2 separate regions of the Homo sapiens genome follow, and region 2 is linked to region 1. A link means that fine-mapping ties the variant in region 1 to the expression of a gene that starts in the linked region. Tissue or cell type: esophagus mucosa. Region 1 holds a variant in brackets; the other region holds the start of a gene. All regions are shown on one strand. Distances are between the middles of the regions.

Region 1 (2,755 bases):
CCGCGCCTGGCCTGAATTAGGCTTTGAAAGAAGGGACAGGGTTCCGATAGCAGGAAGAGAAAGAGCAGATTTCGCAGCAGAAGCAACAGGCATGTTTTCTGCATCCAAATCGGCCAGATCCTCAGAAAGAAACGAAAGAGAGAAAAGGCTAGAATGGTTCGTGTGTTTTGGTTTGGCTTGGGTTTTTTTTCTGTCAAGTTTTGCTATTTCCACCAAAGTGAATACAGAAAAACTCCCTTGCTGGCAGCACCGCGACGAGGCTTCTGGATTGGAGAAGGGCGCGCTGCCTCACATGTGCACTAGGGGGCAGAGCTGCCGCGGGGCTGCTGTAACTCCAAGAACAACCAGAGGGCAAGGGGAAGGATCCCAGCCCCTTCCTCAAATCAGGCGGCTGCAGGACGGGAGGGCAGTTGGAAAGCAGTCGTCTTCTTAGTCCGAGTTGCCTTCATATTCAGCCTAGAAGTTAGGGAAGAAACAGCGTGTAAGAGGAAGTTGGGTGAGACTGAAAGGGGAAAGAGAAAGAGAGAAGCATTGAAGAGGCACTCTTCCCCACCCCCAGCAAGGAACCCTCCATGTGCCATGAAAAGACTTCCAAACAGCAGAAAAGGGTTAGGGCTACTCCTGCCTCCTGCTGTAATCTTGGCTGAGAAAAGTTTAATGCAAGGCTTGGGTAACTATGAAAAGTGACCAACTGCTAGACTAAGACTGGTTTCAGAACAGCCGACTCCTGTTCCCTGGACAGGGGTGACCATTCCAGCTGCTCTAAGGAGGAATGCTTGAGGCTTTAGGAAGTACACAATTCTTGGCCATCCCCCCCAGGCCCTGGTGTCATGGTGTGGGCTGCGTGTGGCAGCAGACGTGACAATGGCGTTCTTTAAGAGCCCTGAAGTCAATATTTAGCCTAAATGTACAACCCACCAGCTGAGCCAGGCAACAGGGTTCTGAAGCACAGGAAATTAGAAGCACCTAGGCGATGTGGAACACTATTTGAAGCTAGATATCCTGACTTTTATCAGTTTCTAACTAGCTGTGCAAGTTTGGATGGTCGAACCAACTTCTCTGAGCTTTAATTTCCCTGTTGGCGAAATAGGTTAAATTAGATTAAAAGTCTCCGATGTGACTTCCAGCTCTGAAACTCTGGAAAACACACACTCCTTCAGCCAGAGGAACTGGGGAATCTAGGGGGCAGGGATGGGGGTGGGAGGATGGTGACAGGCGTCTTGAAGGATTAACCCCACGCTTCTCCTCGCAATTGCAATCGGCTCCCCAGCAGCGGCCACTGCGGCACTGCCTGCCCCACCCCCGCCCTCTGGGCCCGGCGGTACACACCCACGGCTCCCTCAGAGACTTCTGGAATCTC[G/A]CTGGATTTCTCCCAGGAATGCTTATTGCCCTTTAGATCTGCAAATCGCTTTACATCAGCAACCCTGCCGCGCGATTATTAATCATCTCAATATTCTCCCCCATCCCCTACCCTCCCCCTCGCCCGGCCTGGAAGAGGAATTGCAGGGGTCCGGATTTATGAAGGTGATTCGTATTATTCATTCAATAATCAGTTAACTAAAGTTCATTAAGCGCCTAATAGGAGCAAGGTGCAGAGACACACAAATCCAATCACCACAGGGGGCAGAACTGTAGGGGGTCGATGCTCAAAGAACTTCACTGATATTCCAGTTATGTCCTGGGGAGGGGGTGGTTAGAGGGTGATGGAAAAGCTCCCCTCACAAGCCTGATGACAGTGCTGCAACCATTATGGACCACCCCCACGGTTCGTTTTATCATGCCAGGAAAAGGAAAATGGCCTTCCCAAGGTCACTTATCCCCCGAGGGGCAACACTGACCCCAGAACCGCCGTCTTCAAAGCTTTCCACTGTGCCATGAAGGAAAATTTTGAGTTGAAGCCTATAAAATACAGCGTTGGGCGAGAGATGGCATGATTTCCGGGCACAGAGTGAGAAAATCGTGATCCCAGATCACCCACCCACAACAAACGAGACCGCCCCAAATCTTGACTGCAGCTACAACCAGCAGACGCACAGGAATGCTGGAAACAGCTCATTCATCCATCGCGGCGCCCTCTCTCTGGGCCCCCAGCGCCCCTGCCCTTGCCTCCGCCTGGGTGGGTCCCGGGACAGGAGGCGGGGGTCTCGTGGCTCGGAGCCTTCGCCCAGCATTCCAGGGGCGGGGCAGGGACCGGGGGCGGGGCGCGGCGGGAGTCCCGCCCACAGCCTACCCCGGGCCGGCGGCGCAGTGGCTGAGCCAAATATGGGCAGAGCGGAAGCGGCGGGCCGGCGTCACGGCGCCGGGTGGGGGCCGCGCTGCGGGGCGGTGACGGGAGTCGCTGACGGCGCCTACGTGTCACCGTGGAAACCAAACAGTAAACAGAGGACTCGCGAGCTCCTGGCACCGTCTGGCCCTGCGACCTGCCCTGGAGCAAAGGGCCGGAAGCTGGGAAGGGCCAGGAGAAACCTTGGCCTGGCCGACGAGGACAGGGGCGCGGCAAGGGTGTAGAGAGGGCGGTGGAGGGGACGCTGAGAGAGCACTCCCAAACGTCCCTCCCTGAGGTCCCTGGAAGCCGGCTCTCCCTCTGCCCACGGGCCAGCAGGGGCTGGTCAGGAGCGGAAGGAGGCCCTCCTGTCCCTTCTTTTTCTTTTCCTTTGTTTTTTTTTTTTTTTTTTTTTTTTTTTTTGAGATGGAGTCACGCTCTATCGCCCAGGCTGGAGTGCACTGGCGCGATCTCTGCTCACTGCAACCTCTG
Region 2 (2,612 bases), 530 kb after region 1:
AATTAAAAAGCTGAGCTGTCAGCCCTCTGACTCTTACGGAATCCTTTGGAGTGTTAGCTAGTCATTGTGTGTTGGAATTAGACTAACCACTGGTTAAAGCCCTGAGGCCTGCTCATTCAGGGCCCTCTAGGTGAAAGATGAGGTTCAGGCAGATGCTTTCTTACCTGTGGAGTCATCGTAGAGGGATCTGGCTCAGGGGCGGCTTGCTGCTGTTCAGTACTCTTGTTTTTGGCCCCACTCTCCAAAGGCTCTTGCTGGACAGTTGTCTTATTTCCAGGGGGGGCGGACGGTGGTGGTGGAGCTAGTAGTTGGGATTTAGAATGGCCCTGGGAGGGGCGGGAAGGAGATGCCTGAGAAGAGGGCAAGTAGGACTGGGAATGGCTCAAATAGGATTGCGAGGAAGAGGAGGAGGATGAGTAAGAAGGGGTGGGCGCCAGGTAGGATTGGGAAGGTGGGGACTGCGAAGGGGACGGCTGAGCAGGAGGCAGGTAGGGCTGAGATGAGGTCGGGGGGTAGTAAGAGGGTGGCGGCTGAGGTGGGGGCATGTAAGACTGAGATGGGGGCATATAGGACCCAGGCGGCACAGGGGGAGATTCAGGGGGGGATTCCAGCTCCATTGGAACCAAACCAGGAGGCCCGTCTCGTTGGTGGTGGAGCATCTGGTGTTTGTACTGCTGCTGCTTCTGATAGCTGAGGGCCGGCCCGGGTGGCGGGGGCATCGGTGGCGGTGGCGGCTGCCAGTCTCCGTAGCCGCCCCCCGGCATCACTGGCGGGGGCGGCAGAGGGGGCGGAGGAAGGTGGTGGGGCTGAAGCACGCACTGCATTTGCTTCTGGTGCATCTGCTGCAGCTGCTGGAGCTGCGCCAAGTGCTGTTCGCGGAAGCTCATGAAGCCCGAGGAGGAGGGGGCCGCGGGAGTCGTCGAGCTCGAGTACCCGGGCCCCGGCGAGGCCTCAGGAAGCGCCACTGGCGGCGGCGGTGGGACCGGTGGCGGCGGATAGTGGCTGCTCCCGCCATACCGGCCCCAATTCGGGTACATATCGAAAAAGAAGGCGCAGGGCTCGTCCTGGCGCCGTTACTCGTCGCAACCGACCTCCAGGAGCCGCGGCGGCGACGGCGACAGCCGGAACTCGCGGCGCCTACAGGCCCCGGAGCGTGTAAACGGAGCGCGCCAGTGCGCCGGCGCTCCCGAGCTGGGCCCGCGACCGGGAAGGCGGGGACGCGACTTGGGCGACTACGTCTGCGCAGTAACCACCGAGAGGAGAACAAAGGCGAGATAGAGCGGTCCTTTACTTGGCGACTCGTGGTTGCCATCTTCCTTTGGGTTCAGATAATGTAGGCTCCAGTAGAATGTTCTCATAGAACTGAAAAACCATAGAGTCTCACAGCCGAAAGAGGTGGTAGAGATCCTATCGCTCCACGGGTTCATTTTTGAATGAAAAAAAAAAAAGGTTCCATTCACAATAGCAACAATCGCAACAACAACAAAAAAACATAAAGCAACTAGGAAAAACTCTAACAAGAAAGATGTAGGACTTATATGTAGAAAGCTACAGAGTCATAAAGAAGCATATCCAAGTAGGATGAAATTAGACTTCAAATAATGGAGAGGCTTACCATGATCCTGGGTGAAAAGAGGAAAAATTGTAAAGATGTCAGTTTCTCCCAAATTAAATGAATAGACCTAACTCAATTCTCCCCAGAAATTCAACTGGGAACAAAGCTGTGAAGAATGGAAAGGTGTTTTCAAGGCAGAGTGTAAGATTACACCAATTCCTGCAGACATATAGTGAGTAACATCTGCAGGAATTGTAGAAGGGGAGAAATGGAATTTTTTAGACTGTCTCAACACATATAAATCGGTGTTGCAGAATCTCAGAGCAAAAGCAAAGAGAGCAAAAACCAGATACAAAGATGGTCTAAAGACAACCTGGAAGATAATCTTCCAAAAGCTCTCAACGTAATACCAGACATAAACTCTTACTTTAGCTTGAGTGAATCACTAAAAAGCAAAGCTAATACACTGAATTCTTTTGGGTGTGTGGGGGGGGGCGGGGGGAGGGAGAACTGTGAGAATATTGTGTCAGTGCATCACTTGAGTAACATGCAAATAATTGACCTTTCTTCCATCTTAGCAACCCAGATCTTCACCTCTCTCAGGAGGTGAATGTGAATGGAAAGTGGAGCAGCAAGGCATCCTTCAAAAGGAAGAGCTTCTGTTTTCAAATAGAAATTTAGTTATGTTTCTTTTAACTTTTTATTGAAGTATAACGAATATACAGAAAATTACATGTCAAAAGACAAAATTACAACAAATTTAGTTTAAAGATCTTAATTAACTTTTACCTGCTATTCTAGAATTGGGCAACGTCTCATTCTATAAAGCAGAAACAGTGTTCCAATGAGCAGAACAATCGGGATAATTTCATAGACAGAAAAGAAACGCAGAGGCAGGGCGCGGGGGCTCACTCCTGTAATCCCAACACTTTTGGGAGGCTGAGGCAGGCAGATCACCAGGTCAGGAGATCAAGACCAGCCTGGTCAACATGGTGAAACCCCATGCCTACTAAAAATACAAAAAGTATCCAGGCGTGGTGGTGCTCACCTGTAATCT

Which allele goes with the higher level. Positions count from the first base shown, and alleles are read on the strand shown. Sizes are in standard deviations (SD) of each study's normalised expression.
For the expression in esophagus mucosa of the gene that starts at base 1,211 in region 2, allele G in region 1 goes with a lower level than allele A (small effect, 0.17 SD a copy in GTEx).

Evidence for each region. PIP is the estimated chance that this variant, and not a neighbour inherited with it, causes the effect.
Region 2: it holds the start of YLPM1, and the variant in region 1 is fine-mapped to the expression of YLPM1 in esophagus mucosa (GTEx, PIP 0.98).

What each region holds. Positions count from the first base shown.
Region 1 is chr14:75,293,821-75,296,575 of GRCh38, reverse strand. It overlaps LINC01220 (long intergenic non-protein coding RNA 1220), which reads right to left and starts at 2,172. Exons shown (of 3, transcript NR_038421.1): 1 at 2,035-2,172; 2 at 1,839-1,899; 3 at 166-456. RefSeq lists a silencer at 1,935-2,394 and an enhancer at 2,465-2,604. The variant G/A (reference allele first, on the strand shown) is at 1,361.
Region 2 is chr14:74,761,915-74,764,526 of GRCh38, reverse strand. It overlaps YLPM1 (YLP motif containing 1), which reads right to left and starts at 1,211. Exons shown (of 21, transcript NM_019589.3): 1 at 165-1,211. The coding sequence starts at 1,037. RefSeq lists an enhancer at 1,164-1,503.